Linked DNA regions of Homo sapiens: region 1 is linked to region 2. A link means that fine-mapping ties the variant in region 2 to the expression of a gene that starts in the linked region. Tissue or cell type: tibial nerve. Region 2 holds a variant in brackets; the other region holds the start of a gene. All regions are shown on one strand. Distances are between the middles of the regions.

Region 1 (6,247 bases), 110 kb after region 2:
GACCCAAACTCCATCCCTGGGACTTTACCCTCACCCCCACCCACCCCACCCCACCCCATCCACTTCCTCACCAGCCCTGTGGCCTTTGACCAGGAAGGGTTTCGGAGTTTTTGCAATCACCCTATGCCCTATGCCTCTCCTCCCTGGAGCCAAGAGTCCAAGCCCCCAGCCCTTTCCTTCCCCAGGCTGAGGAGTCCGAGCTCCCAGCCTCCTCCTCTCCCAGGACCCAGGAGTCTGAGCCCCCAGCCCCCTCCTCCTATGGATTGGGAAGTGCAGGCCCCCTCACCTCACTGCAGCCGGGCTAGAGGTGAGGATGCTGAGTTCTGAAGATGGATCACAGCCCTGATGGGGCGGGCAGGGCCTGCAGGCCTTGGCTCCAAGTGGCCGAGCCTCTCTGACTGCCCTACCCTTCCTCAACCAGCAGGAACACTCTGCCAGGGCTAATTACTGTCACCTGGGCAGGTGAAAGCACCTGCCCTGGGAGGGGCCGAGACTGCTGGGCTTGAAAAAGAAAAGCAGCCAGGGATCCGCCCTGGGGCAGAGGTTGGGGCCCTTGGCATCCAGCCGTCTGACCCTGGCTTCTAGCGCTGGGTTTCCGGAGTCCCAGTACTCAATGCCCTCCTGTCTCAGACCCAGGAGTTCAGGCCCCCAGCCCCTGCTCCTACAGACCCCAGAATCCGGGCTTGCAGCCCCCTCCTCCCCTAAGACCCCAGCTCTGCAGTCCTGGCCCCAGTCCTTTCCTCCCCCAGGACCCAGAAGTTCGGGCTCGCGGCGCAGTCCTTCCTCAGACCTGGGACAGCCGGCCCCCAAGGCCCCTTCTCAGATCCAGGAGTCTGAGAGCCCCGTACCCATTCCCCTGGACCCAAGCGCCTGTGTCGCCGCCCCCTCAACTCGCAGATCCTCGGGGCTACCTGGGGGCGCCGACCGGAGCGGGGAGATGGGGTGAGGGCGCGGGAATCCCCGTTCTCTTCAGGTGCAGCGACCTCCGCGGTCCAGCGCAGGGCGGGGCCCCGTCGCGTCACAGGGCGGGAGCCCGGCTCTGATGTCACCCAGCACCTGCCCGGCTGGGAACGGGGCGGGCCTGGAGCTTCAGGGCCTCTGACGGGGGCCGGGGGAAGGCGGGGGTTGAGCCTGTTGCCAGGTGGGCGGCGGCGGCGGCGGCGCCAGGGGCTCCTCCCCCTTATGGAGGGCAAAGGTCGAGGGCCCGCCGCGGAGAAGGCTGAGGATTCCCGGGATTCAAACCCCGCTGGAGCTTCCTGGGCCTCAGCTTTCCCTGCTGTGCATTGCGGCCAGTGAAATTAATAAAACGACGTTCAGAAAGTTCCCCAGCCCAGTGCTTCATCATTAATCTCCCTGAGCCTCAGTTTCCCAACTGCGGGAAGGGAACAACAAAATCTATAGACAGTAAGAGTACCAAAGAAGAGGACAATGGTATTCTGTCCTGAGCTTCAGTCTCGGGAGTGAAATAAAGACTACATGGTGATAAGAGTACCTACTATGTGTCGGGTATTTTCTCCTCTTAGAACAGCTCTTTGAGATCATAAAATGATTTAAAAAAAAAAAAAGAGGGAGAGACAGGGTCTCTCTCTGTTGCCCAGCTTGGAGTGCAATGCCACGATCATGGCTCACTGCAGCCTTGACCTCCTGGGCTCAACCGATCCTCCCTGCTCAGCCTCCCGAGTAGCTGGGACAGCAGGGTCACGCCACCACGCCCGGCTAACTCTTTTACTTTTTGTAGAGACGAAGTCTCGCTGTGTTGCCCAAGCTGGTCTCGAACTCCTGGGCTCAAGCGATTCTTTCGCTTCCACCTCCCAAAGTGCTGGGATTACAGGCCTGAGCCACTGCGCCCGGCCTAGAATAACCTCAACAACCAATGACATAGGGGTGATCAGCATGTCCATTTCTCTGATGTGGAAACTGAGGCAGGAAGGGTCAAAGTAAGGCACTCAAGATCACACAGCGTAAGAGGGAGGTCTGGAATTCAAGCCTATACCGTTTTCTGCCATTCTAAAGGAGGGGGTCTGGAAAGAACTTGTAGCAGGTCCCTAAAGACATGAATTTCTGCGTCCCAGTTGGTGATTACTACCAACCTGCTTCCCCATCTATGCCACAGGGACCACCGCTTTCCTTAGGGGACTCCTGTGGGACTGAAAAGGTTAAAGGACCCAGCACACAGTTGGTCTCTGGAGTGTTCTTCTCCACCAGGTCCCCCTGCAGTCACCAATTCGGCCCAGTCTCAGCCTTCCCCTCTCTGTATAATGGGTACAATATAACTCACCTCGAGTCAACACGATAAGGAAAGGAAATTATTTAGTTATAAAAAATAAAAGCGTCCAAGTACATCATAGGTTCTCAAATATGTCCTTCCCTACCCCTCCGCCTCTTCCAGTCACGACCCCTCTCTCTGGCCTCCGATTCTGACACGTGAGAACAGAGACATGTCATGCTGGGGGCGGGGGACTGGAGGCGATGACTCAGGTATTAAAGCGGCCGAGGTTCCAAAGACAGCCTCAGTTTCCCCTTCTGCGGAACAGGCCCGGGGCTGACAACGAGGACCCCGACCGGGCCTCGCACACGGCGGCAACTGGAGTTGGGGGAGTGTAGACGTCCCGCCCCCCCACCTCCCTCGCCGCCGTCCCGCTGCGCGCCCAAGGTGAGTGTCCGCGTCACCTCCCCGCCGTCCCCGGCCGCCTGCCCGGGCTCCCGGGCCCCGATCGCAGCCCCCAGGCTCCAGCTTCCCCTGGCTCAGTCCCGTTCCGCCGCCCCCGGAGGGCTGCCGGCCCCGGGCACTCACCGGCTTCCAGGGCCGTCCCGAGGCTTCGGCCTGGGGAGAAAGAGGGGCGTGTCCGCCAGGACAGCCCCGCCCCCAAGAGAGCAGCAGAGGCCAATCGGCGCCCGCTGCGGCAAGCTACGGCCCCGCCCCTGGGGGACGGGAGCCGCCAATCAAAAAGAGCGGCTGGCGGGCTGGGCCAATCAGAAGTTGTCGAAGGGTGCCAGCCGTGGGAAAAGAACGCGGCCCGGGCGCGGAGCTAGGCGGCGCGGTCGGGGGTGGAAGCCGAGGCCTGATGGGCACGGGGCGCCACCAATAGCGAGGCGCGGGGGGCGGCCGGGGGCGGGAGGCCCAAGGGGCCAGGGTGAATGGGCCGCTTTGTGCGCAAGGCATGAATGGGGGCCTTTGTAAGGGCCGGCGTGGGGGGGCCGACCGAAGGCCGGAATGCCTGGGTCCCCCGGGACCCGGCGGGCAGGAGAGACAGGAGACAGAATTCACTTTTGTCGAACGTAGACCATGTACCAGGCACCCTCCCAGGCTCTCACCCACCGGGGAGGTGTGGGCCGTGATACTATCGGAATAACAATGATCGTTTATCAAGCACTTCGATGTAGACCGGGAGCTGTGCTAAGCGCCTTACCTGCATGATCTCATTTAATCCTTACAACGAAGCCCTTGAAATTGGTGCTATTAAGATCTTCATCTTCTAGATGAGGTAACCCCAAGCTTAGAAAGAGGGTGTTAATTGCAGAAAGTCACAGAGCTGGCCGATGGCAGAGCAAGGACTCAGATCCAACCAGAAGTTGTGCTTTTAACCGCCATGCTATGCCCAAACGTGGTAATGATTCCCCATTTACAATTTACAGATGGGAAAACTGAGGCTCAGGAGAGCCAAAAGACTTCCCAAGGTTGGAAGGGTGCCGTGGCTCACACCTGTAATCCCAACACTTTGGGAGGCCAGGGTGGGAGGATCACTTGAGCCCAGGAGGTCAAGACCAGCCTGGGCAACATAGGCCCCATCTCTATTTAAAAGGAAAATAAAAAGAGCCAAGGGCACAAAGGAATGGCTCCACTGAACCCAAGGAGGCCTGCCAGCTTGGCTCGGCTGCTCAGCAGCTGTGTGGGCTCAGGCCAGTTGCTGGACTTTTTTGAGATTCCATTTATTTCTGCACTCGTAAAATGGGAGTGATGGACTGTCTGCCTTCACCCTTGCTCTCCCTACAGTCTACTCTATTCAGATGGGGCCTTTCCTCTGTTCAGAGCCTTCCATGGCTCCCATTTCACTCAGTAAAAGTCTAAGAACTCACCATGGCCAATGAGGTCCTGCGGGATGTGGCTGGCCCTTTTGCTCTCTCTGATCTCACCCCCAGGCCCTCCCCTTCATACTGCTCCAGCTACACTGGCTCAATTTCTCAAACCAGGAGGCCTGGTGCTGCCCCAAGGCCTTTGCATTCTCTGTTGGGTCCACCAGGAATGCTCTTCCCCAGGTTTTGCATGACAACCTCTCTCCCACATCATCCGTTCTGCTCCAATATCACCTCTTCCAAGAGGCCTTTCCTGGCCATCCTATATAAGACAGTTCCTCTCATCACTCTCTCTCGTTTAACCCCGCTTTGCTTTTTCTCATAGCACTGGGAGTGTTTGCTAATTTATCTGTTTATCATCTGTCTCCTCACTAGAATTTAAGTCCCACGAGGACAAAGATCTTTATTTTGTTCAGTGCCGAATCCTCAGTGCCTGGCACACAGTAGGTGTTTAATAAGTGTTTGTTGAGTAAATGGTAATGAGTGCTTGTATTGAGTGGATTAAGTGAATTAGTGCCTACAAAGCTCTTAGTACAGTCCTGGCACCAGGGAAAAGGCTGAATAAGAAAGTACTGGCCAGGAGCGGTGGCTCACGCCTCTAATTCCAGCACTTTGGGAAGCTGAGGCAGGCAGATCACTTGAAGTCAGGAGTTCGAGAGCAGCCTGGCCAACATGGTGAAACCCCGTCTCTACTAAAAATACAAAAATTATCCAGGCATAGTGGCCCACGCCTGTAATCCCAGCTTTTCGGGAGGCTGAGGCAGGAGAATCACTGGAACCCAGGAGGCGGAGGTTGCAGTGAGCGGAGATAGCACCACTGCACTCCAGCCTGGGTGGCAGAGTGATTCCATCTCAAAAAAAAAAGAAAGAAAAGAAAAAGAAAATACTGATTATCATGACTATTGCCATTTATTGTCCTACAAACAGCATGCAGGAGAGAAACTATATACATACGAAGTCTAGCGTACGAGCAAGAAGCCAAAGAAATATGAAAGGAAATGTTGGGAGATAAGAGATGGGCAGAAAAGAGACAAGAGAAGCTGGAGTTGGGTGCTGAGGGCAGACACAGATTCAAGCATCCAACTCCCAATGCACTTGCTCAGCAACAGCAAAGGTGAATCACAGGACCATCCCTGTGGTCATAGTGTCAAGATTGCCATGGCTTTGAGATTGCCACAGCCACCTTCCACTTCTTTGCAGATGGGGAAACAACATCCTGGGGAGAAAAGGACCTTTCTGAGAGTACTCGCAGTGATAACACAGCTCACAGTTGTGAGGTCTGATTGTGTGCTGGAAACATGACTGTCATTATGTCAGTGCATCCTCATGCCAGCCCCGTGAGGCTGGCATGGTCATTACCCCACTTTATAGGCTAGCAACATGTCCAGGGTCTCCTGACTACTGCTAATGGCGGATCTGGGCTCCAACTCCTAGGAAACAGGCCCCTGCAGGCATCTGTCTTAACCAAGACAGAGCTGAGGGCTCCTGTCACTCTGGCTGGAGCGTGCTCCATGGAAACATCCTACAGTAAAGATAATGAGTGCTGCTGTGTATGGAGTGCTGACTGTGTGCTGGACATTTTGCCCTTTTATGTATTAACTCATTGGATTCTCTCCACAACCCTACGAGGCTGGTGCTTTTATTATCCCCATTTGATGGATAGAAAACTGAGGTCCACGCCAGGCACAGTGGCTCACCCCTGTAATCCCAGCAATTTTTGGGGCTGAGGTGGGAGGATCACCTGAGGCCAGGAGTTTGAGACCAGCCTACCCAACATGGTGAAACCCTATCTCTACTAAAAATACAAAAATAAGCCAGGCATGACAGTGGGCGCCTGTAGTCCCAGCTACTTGGGAGGCTGAGGCAGGAGAATTGCTTGAGCTCGGGAGGTGGAGTTTGCAGTGAGCCAAGATTGTGCCATTGCACTCCAGCCTGGGTGACAGACTGAGACTCTATCACAAAAAACTCAAAAAAAAAAAAAAAAAAAAGAGAGAGAAGAAAGAAAGAAAGAAAGAGAAAGAAAGAAAAATTGAGGTCCAGAGACATGAAAGTCCTGTTCCCAACGGTGCTAGGAAAGAGTATGGACTGGGACACAACAGAATTTCAAACAGGAAAGAAGGCACTGGGCACCCACATTTTAACTATAATCTGCCTGGTAACTGGTGATGTCATC
Region 2 (7,820 bases):
GGCTCAAGGATGCGCTACCTCCCCCAAGCCCAGAGACCACACCGGTCCCAGACTCTTTAGCGGACCCCCCTTTTGGAGCCGGGGTCCCACGGAATTAGCCACCTCCCTCCCTCTGCTCCCACGGCCTCAGGAACCCCCCACCCGAGGGTGGATGGGGGGCGTCACTGAGCACGATTCTCGATGCAACGATTCCTATGCAAGGGGCATTTTGAGTCCCCCCCATCCTTCCCTCGGACCCTAAACCCTGGTGAAGCAGGGGTGAGGGGTGGGGCGGGTTTTGGTGGGGGCGGGGCAAAGGGCTAGGGGCTCCAGACACCAGGGTACGGGGTGGGGACTGATTATATTGCCAAAGGGTTCAACTTCTTTAACAAGCCCCCCCGTTTCCCCTGACCTTCACGAAAGCCGAAGGAGGCGGGGAAAGGGGGTGAGGGTCTTTTCCAAAGGGTACTGACCTCTTCCCAACGTCTCCCCCTGCTCGCCAGTCCGCCACACGTACCCAGCTTTTGAGTTCAGCTTTTCAAAATAACCACAATCATGATAAACTTCTACAAAACGTGATTCTCCTCCCCTCCCACCCCATCCCCCAAGTCAATAGTGTGGGATTCGGGGAGGGAGAGAGCGAGCTAAAGGGACTCTTTCCAAGTCCGGCTCCCCCTTTTCCCCCCGGCCGCCAGGGTGCCTGCACCTACACGCATGCGCTGCATGACGCGCCCCCCACACGCATGTCGCACCCCTCCTGCGCTCCGGGAACGCACGGACACGGGCCAGGGGGCGGGGCGATTGGGGAGGAATGAATGGCGGGGGGTCTTCCTGAGCTCCGCGGCTCACCCTCCCCAACACACACACACACACACACAGAGCAATAAGTTTCTCTCACTCAAATGTGGGCGGGGCGGGCCTAGCCTGTCGCTGGTGGGGGGAGTGGTGAGGGGGCGCTCTCAGGGATGGGGGCGGGGTTCGGAGACAGTGTGGGGAGGGGAGGTCTGCAAATCGTCCAACTCTGGTGCTAATGGCGGGTCTTCTCAGCCCACCCGCAGGGCAGGGAGGGAGGGGTCGGCGTGGCCCCTTCCCCAAGCCTCCCCCACGCCCACCCTGGGTGCATGAACCGCCCAATGCAGAAGCTGCCGCATGTCACCCCCCTCTCCCCAAAGAAAAAGTGTCATGCCCCCTTCCCACCCACCCTCACTCCCCACCAAAATAAACGTTTCCTTTTCATTTAAAAATGGCCTCCTGTGTGCCTGTTCGGAAAGTCTCCTGATTGCGGCTGGGGCGCACAGAGGGATTGGGACTTCTAGAGTGGGGCCCTATTGCTGGGCACAGTGGCTCAGGCCAGTAATCCAAGCACTTTGGGAGGCCAAGGACGCAGGAAGATCGCTTGAGGCCAGGAGTTCAAGACCAGGCTGGGCAACACAAGAGAGACCCTGTCTTTACAAAAAATAAAATAAAATTAGCCAGGTGTGGTGGCATCTGTAGTCCCAGCTACTCTGGAGGCTGAGGCGAGAGGATCGCTTGAGCCTGGGAGGTCGAGGCTGCAGGGAGCTATGATTGTGCCACCGCACTCCAGCCTGGGTGACAGAGTGAGACCCTTTCTCAATTTTTTAAAAAAGGGGAGGATGGGCTTTGGTGATCGTGACATCTGCTCCACGGCTTGCACCTTATTTAGGGCAAGCACCTGCCTCAGTTTCCCTGATAGTAAAAATGGGGATCCACACCTCTAACTGAAAAGTCACTGAGGACTCAGTCTGACGAACGTGAGCCCCCACACGAGGGTGCCTAGTTCCCACGAGAGAGACAGACCTGGGTCCCCAAGGTGGGGTCAGGGGCTGAGGGCTCAGCCTCTATATGTGCTGACTCTGAGGCCAGACTGTCTGGGTTCAAACTGTTTCAACTTCTTAGTAGCTGTGTGTCCTTGGGCAAGTCACTCAGCCTCTCTGAGCCTGTTTCCACCACTCTAAAAGGGTGGGAGGGGCATCACTTAGTTATTCAGCAAATATTGAGTGAATGCCTGCTGTGTGCCAGACACTGTTCTAGGCACTGGAGTGCAATGAAATCTCTACCTGTAGTGCTATGTAAGGGTTAAGATAAACTGTGTGCTTAGCACAGCACGCAGCACAAACGACCACGGCTGTCTTTTTGTTTTGTTTTGCTTTTGGGACAGGATCTCACTCTTCACCCATGCTACAGTGCAGTGATGCAATCATAGCTCACTGCAGCCTCCACCCCCTGGGCTCAAGTGATCCTCCCACCTCAGCCTCCCGAAGCACTGGGATCACAGGTATGAGCCACTGCAGCAGGCCTGTCATTTATTTTGCAAAACTTAAGAGTTGGCCCGAGTGCAACACCCCTTCTAGCACTCACTGGGGGCGTGGAGTGAGGGATGCTGCTGCTCTGAGACTGTTCCCTCATCTGTATAATGCAGGGAATATTTCCATTATACACTGGAGTCAGGAGGAAAGGAGTTATGAAGCGCCTGATCCACAGGATGTCCCTGTATACCCACGCAGGTGTCATTCTAACCAGCAGGCTGCCTGACCTGCTGCCCTAGCAGGCTGAAGCAGCCTGTGCCCATCCTGCCCCATCAGAGACCCCCTGCAGGAACACACACAGCCACAGAGATGGTCCAGTCGGGTTGGAGTTTATTTCTGCCAGAGCCTGGAGGCTGGGAGGGTAAAGGACACTCCTTTAGTCCCAGAGGGAAGCTCCGAACCCTCAGAGCAACCAGAAGGGAGGGCAGAGCATGGGCAGCAGCAGGAGTGAGAGGGGTCCCCTTGTCCTGCCCCTTTGCAAGGGTTCAAGGCTGGTGGAGGCCTGGGGCTTCTGTCGCTCAGGAGTTCAGGGGTGGACGCAGAAATGGGGGAAGGAGAGTGGCTACGTAGAGAGTGAGAGCGAGATTCCTAAAAAGATGCACAGAGAGACCCTCAGAGAGGCCAAGAAAGATGGTGAGAGGGTAGGGAAGGAGAGGGAGGGAGAGAGAGAGAGAGAGAGAGAAGCAGAGGGAATGGGTTGCACTGGCTGAGGATGGTGGAGGAGCCGTCTCACTCCCTTCCTAATGTCTATAGATCAATAACGAGGGAAGAAAGGAGGACAGGGAGCTGATGGAAACACAGCTTGCCAACTGTACCCAGTCCCCCAACAAGCAAGGTAGCTCCAGTC[A/C]TTGCCTCCCTGCCTGCCCCGCTCCTCTGTGTTTAGGGGTCATCCTTTGATGGGAGGTTGCAGGGGACCCAGGTGGGGGTGATAAATGCCAGAGTGCTGCACCATTTCCAAAGGGCAAGAAGTCAGAGGGCGGGGTTCCTGGGACAGGGGCCCGTGGGGTCCAGGGAGGAAGGGGGCTGGGCCCCATCTGTTAGTGCATCTGGGGACAGGGTAGGGTCACTGGGGGTGGGCTGGTGGGGACCCCTCAGGCTCCGGGGATGGCCCAGACCCAGGCTGTGCTTCCTCTGCCTCCTCGTCGGATGCCACGCCCTCCTCTAGTCGGAAGACCTGGCGCACCGTGCGGGTGGTGAAGGTGAGGGGGCCGCGTCTGTGGGGAGGAGAGACCAGGATACAGAGATGAAATGAGGGGAGGGGAGGGGAGGAGAAAGGGGGAGGAGAGAGAGAGATGAGGGGGAGAGAGAGAGAGATAGGAAGAGAGAGAACAAAATAAGGGGGAAGAGAGGGATGAGATCAAGAGAAATGGAGGGAGACGGGCAGAAGCAATGGGGGGCAGAGAGAGATGAAGGACACACAGAGAGGAGGAAAGGAGAGAAAGGTGGTGGTGCACGGTGGGAAAGGAGGGCACAGAGATGACAGGGAGAAATGGGTGTGGGAAGAAAGAAGTTACCTGGATTTGGCTCTCCCGCAACACAGCCGCTGCTCCCACAGCCCCACACCCCCGTGGATCCCATTTCCCCCTGTTGTTGCCCCTGGCACGGCCTCGCGTCCCTGGGGTTTATGGAGTTAGGGTGCTCCCCACCCGTCAGGCCTGTACGTGGGATGACCATACCGAAGCCGGTTCCTCAGTGTGGTCACTTCACGGTTCATGGACTCGGCCGACTCTGTGACATCTTCCAGCTCACGCTGCAGCCTCCGGCGGCCGGCCTGAGCCCGGGATGCCTCCTCCTCGGCCTCCTCCAGCTGCCGCTTCAGCTGCTTGACTCGAAGGTTTCCCTTCTCCAGCTTGATGGAAGCAGGGGGACTGGGTTATATCTCCAGGTACTGTCATCACTCCCTCCCTCTCCAACAGCCCACTACTGCCCCATCCCTACTGCCCCCTGACTCTCTCTGCCCCATCCTCTGCTCTCTGTTTAGGCCTTGTTCTTTTCTCCTAAATCCCTCATGCCAGCCTCTACCCTGACCTCCAGTCTCTCCCCTCCAGGTTGTCTCCTACATGGCCTCAGAAAGGTCTTCCTATACCCAGAGCTGACCCAGACCCTCCTGCTCACAATCCTTTCATGGCTCCCCAGTACCCCCGGGACAAGGTTCCAGCCCCTCAGCCTGGCATTCCAGGCCCCACAGGGTCTTTTTCTTGTCCAGTTCTCTCTTCCCATAAACCCACTGTCCAGACCAACTTCACTGAGATCCTCCCCAGACCCTACCACCTCTCTCTTCAGGGAGGGAACATACATGATCTGACCTCATTTCTTATCGTTCAGCCTTCCTATCCCACATTTTCTGGAGTCAATGAGCTCCCATCACAAGAAGCAACGTGCAGGTGCTGGACTGGAAGTGAGTGCAGATACCATCCTGGCACTTGGCACATCAGCAGAGGGTTGGAATCAATGACTTCGCAATTTATAAATTCTGGCATCTAGGAAGGGCCCTTGTAGGGAGCTGAGGCAGCCAAAGTGAGGGAAGAAGTTAAACTCTACCAAGAAGCTAGACCAGGACTAAAATAACAACAGATGTTTATCTAGACCATACTAATCTGCTTTTTGTTCTGAACTCACCAAACGTATTTCTATTCTTCAAGGCCTTTATACTTGCTGTTCCCTCTGACTGGCTCTTTTTCACCCTTCAGGTATCAATTTAAATGTCACCTTCTCAAAGAGTTCTTCCTGATCTCCCAACCTGAAGAGGATTCCCCAATCCTCTGTGTCTTCCTCTCTCTTCACTTTTTTTCTTCATAGCCCTTGTCACAATCTGTAATTATCTGCTTGTTTACAGGTTTATTACGTCTCATCCTATGCAGAAAATGTGAGCTCCATGAGGGCAGGGACTTCCTCTGTTTCGTTCACATCCATATCCCTAATGCCTACCACAGTGTCTGGCACATAGCAGGTGCTCAATAATTGTTTGTGGAATGAATGGCGAATAAAGCACAGCTGAGCTTTTAAGGGCAGAGGGACTCTGTCCAGACAGACCTGGGATCTGATCCAGGCTCTATCTCTGTGACTCTGATGCAAAATATATCCTCTTAAAGTTTCAGTTTCTTCATCTGTGAAATGGGACTAGTGAGGAAATGCAAATATGTATTTTTTAAAAAGCAGTTGCTTATGACACAGTAACTGCTCAGTAAGTAATCAAGAACACACACTCTGGGGCTAGAGTGCTGAGGTTTGAATACTGACCCCACCTCTTACCAGCTAAATAATTTTGAGCAAGTTACTTCACCTTTCTGTACCTCAGTTTCCTCACATAAATAAGAGGGTAAATAATAGCACCTTCCTTCTACCATTCTGATAAGAATTAAACACAGTAAATGTTATGTCTTTAGCACAGTGCCTGGTACATAGAAGCTAGTCCTGGTCTAGCTTCTGGGTAGGGTTTAACTTCTTCCCTTGCCCTGGCTTCCTCAGCTCCCTACAGGGCCCTTTCTAGATGCCAGCATTTATGAATTGCAAACTCACTGATTCCAACCCTCTGCTGATGTGCCAAGTGCCAAGATGGTATCTGCATTCAGTTCCAGTCCAGCACCTGCACATTGCTTCTTGTGATGGGAGCTCATTGCCTCTGGAGACAGCCTGTGCAATTTCTCAGCCAGTGGTCACACTCTCCACTGCTCCCTAATGATGCCAGCTGCTTACCTGGTCCCGGAGCTGGTCAGCCACCCTCCGCTCCTCCTCCACCTGGAGCACCACCTCTTTAAGCCGCTTCTCAGCTCTGCGCACCAGCTTTCCAGAGAGGATGCGCTCTCTGAAGAGAGGGATGAGGAGGAGTCTCAGTAGAGGGGCTCAACCTAGGATTTTGTCCCCATAGACTCATGCAGTGGCTGTCACCTTGTTCTTGGATTGGCTTCTTCCCTCTTTCCTAACCCCTAAGTGGTTCCCACAGTTTACTGAGGCCAAACACTGACATGCAGGCTGCCTTCTCCTCGGCATCCATGTCCTTGGCTTCTACTAGGACACCTCACATACCTGTTTCCTATGATGTTGTGAGTTATAATAAGTATATGTTTGGTCCTATTCAGTTTCCAAAGAGGATCATTTACAAACTACAGTTTACTCTTTGGGCCCATTCATTTTCCCCTGAAAATCATTTACTATCTCTCACAATTGAATACATCCTTTTTGTCTCTCTCCCCTATAAAGAGGATACTTAAGCCTCAACCATCTGACCCTGTATAAAAAGTCTTATATTTTGCATGGCTCCTGTGTTCATGCACATTAATATATTTGTAGCCTTTTATTTTGTTAATCTATTTATTGTCAGTTTATTTCAGCAGACTTGAATCTTCAGAGCGGGAGGGAACACTCTTTCTGCCCTTACACCTGTCCTCTCCTGCATGGACCATCACATCTGGGGTGAAGTCCATGTGATGGGACCTCTAGCAATCGGGATTGCTTGACAGCCACCCTGGATACAACAGCCCCAGATGTGCTGAGAGGAAGGCACAGGGCTGGGGGCGAGTGGGAAGGCACTAAGCAGTGGAAAAGGATGAAGGAGAGAGACTTCTTTTTTTTTGAGACAGAGTTTCACTCTTGTTGCCCAGGCTGGAGTGCAAAGGCACGATCTCCAGCTCACCGCAACCTCTGCATCCTGGGTTCAAGCAATTGTTCCTGCCTCAGCCTCCCGAGCAGCTGGGATTACAGGCATGTGCCACCACACCTGGCTAATTTTGTATTTTTAGTAGAGACAGGGTTTCTCCATGTTGGTCAGGCTGGTCTCGAACTCCCAACCTCAGATGATCCGCCCGCCTCGGCCTCCCAAAGTGCTGGGATTACAGGCGTGAGCCACTGCGCCCGGCTGAGACTTCTTCAGCTAAGAATCATCTGGTCATTCTTTGCTCCCAGGGTGACTTTATTATTCTTCTGAGAAAGGGCCTTGCTCTGTTGCCCAGACAGGAGTGCAATGGTGTGATCATGGCTCACTGCAGCCTCAATGTCCTGGGCTCAAGCGATCCTCCCACCTCAGTGTCCCGAGTAGCTAGGACTACAGGTGTGTGCCATCATGCTGGGCTAATTTTTAATTTTTATTTTTGTAGAGATGGGGTCTCGCCATGTTGCCCAGGCTGGTCTTGAACTCCTGGGTTCAAGTGATCCTCCTGCCTCAGCCTCCCAAAGTGTGGGGATTACAGGCATGAGCCACTGCACCTGGTGCAGGGTGACTTTAAGCAACTCATCTACTCCCTCGGAACCTCAGTTTCCTCATTTGTATAATGGAGCAGGGGTCCCCATAGACCTCAAGCTACAGTTCCCATAAGCCCTGGGGCCCCTGGGTGACCCTGTGGACTGAGAACCACTTGTCTCATGCACCTCTGGGGCCGTTTCCTTCTGCCTGTCCCTGAGGCCTTTCACTCTCATCAAGTTCCACAACGAATTTAGCATCTTCCTCCAAAAAGCCAATATTCCCTCAGTCACCAGGCCTTAGCTCCAAACAGTGTCTTCTTCCCCTGCCACCACCCA

The links. PIP is the estimated chance that this variant, and not a neighbour inherited with it, causes the effect.
Region 1: MYH14 starts here. The variant in region 2 is fine-mapped to the expression of MYH14 in tibial nerve (GTEx, PIP 0.99).

Annotation. Positions count from the first base shown.
Region 1 is chr19:50,200,219-50,206,465 of GRCh38, reverse strand. MYH14 (myosin heavy chain 14) reads right to left here and starts at 2,844. Exons shown (of 43, transcript NM_001145809.2): 1 at 2,795-2,844. LOC124904746 (a long non-coding RNA gene) reads left to right here and starts at 2,490. Exons shown (of 3, transcript XR_007067298.1): 1 at 2,490-2,653. RefSeq lists a silencer at 1,023-1,122.
Region 2 is chr19:50,305,340-50,313,159 of GRCh38, reverse strand. It overlaps MYH14 (myosin heavy chain 14), which reads right to left. Exons shown (of 43, transcript NM_001145809.2): 41 at 6,003-6,111; 42 at 3,983-4,155; 43 at 2,620-3,520. The coding sequence ends at 3,370. KCNC3 (potassium voltage-gated channel subfamily C member 3) reads left to right here. Exons shown (of 5, transcript NM_004977.3): 5 at 1-1,223. Among named protein-coding and RNA genes, the nearest start is that of KCNC3, 20 kb to the left of the region's middle. RefSeq lists an enhancer at 1-55. The variant A/C (reference allele first, on the strand shown) is at 3,154.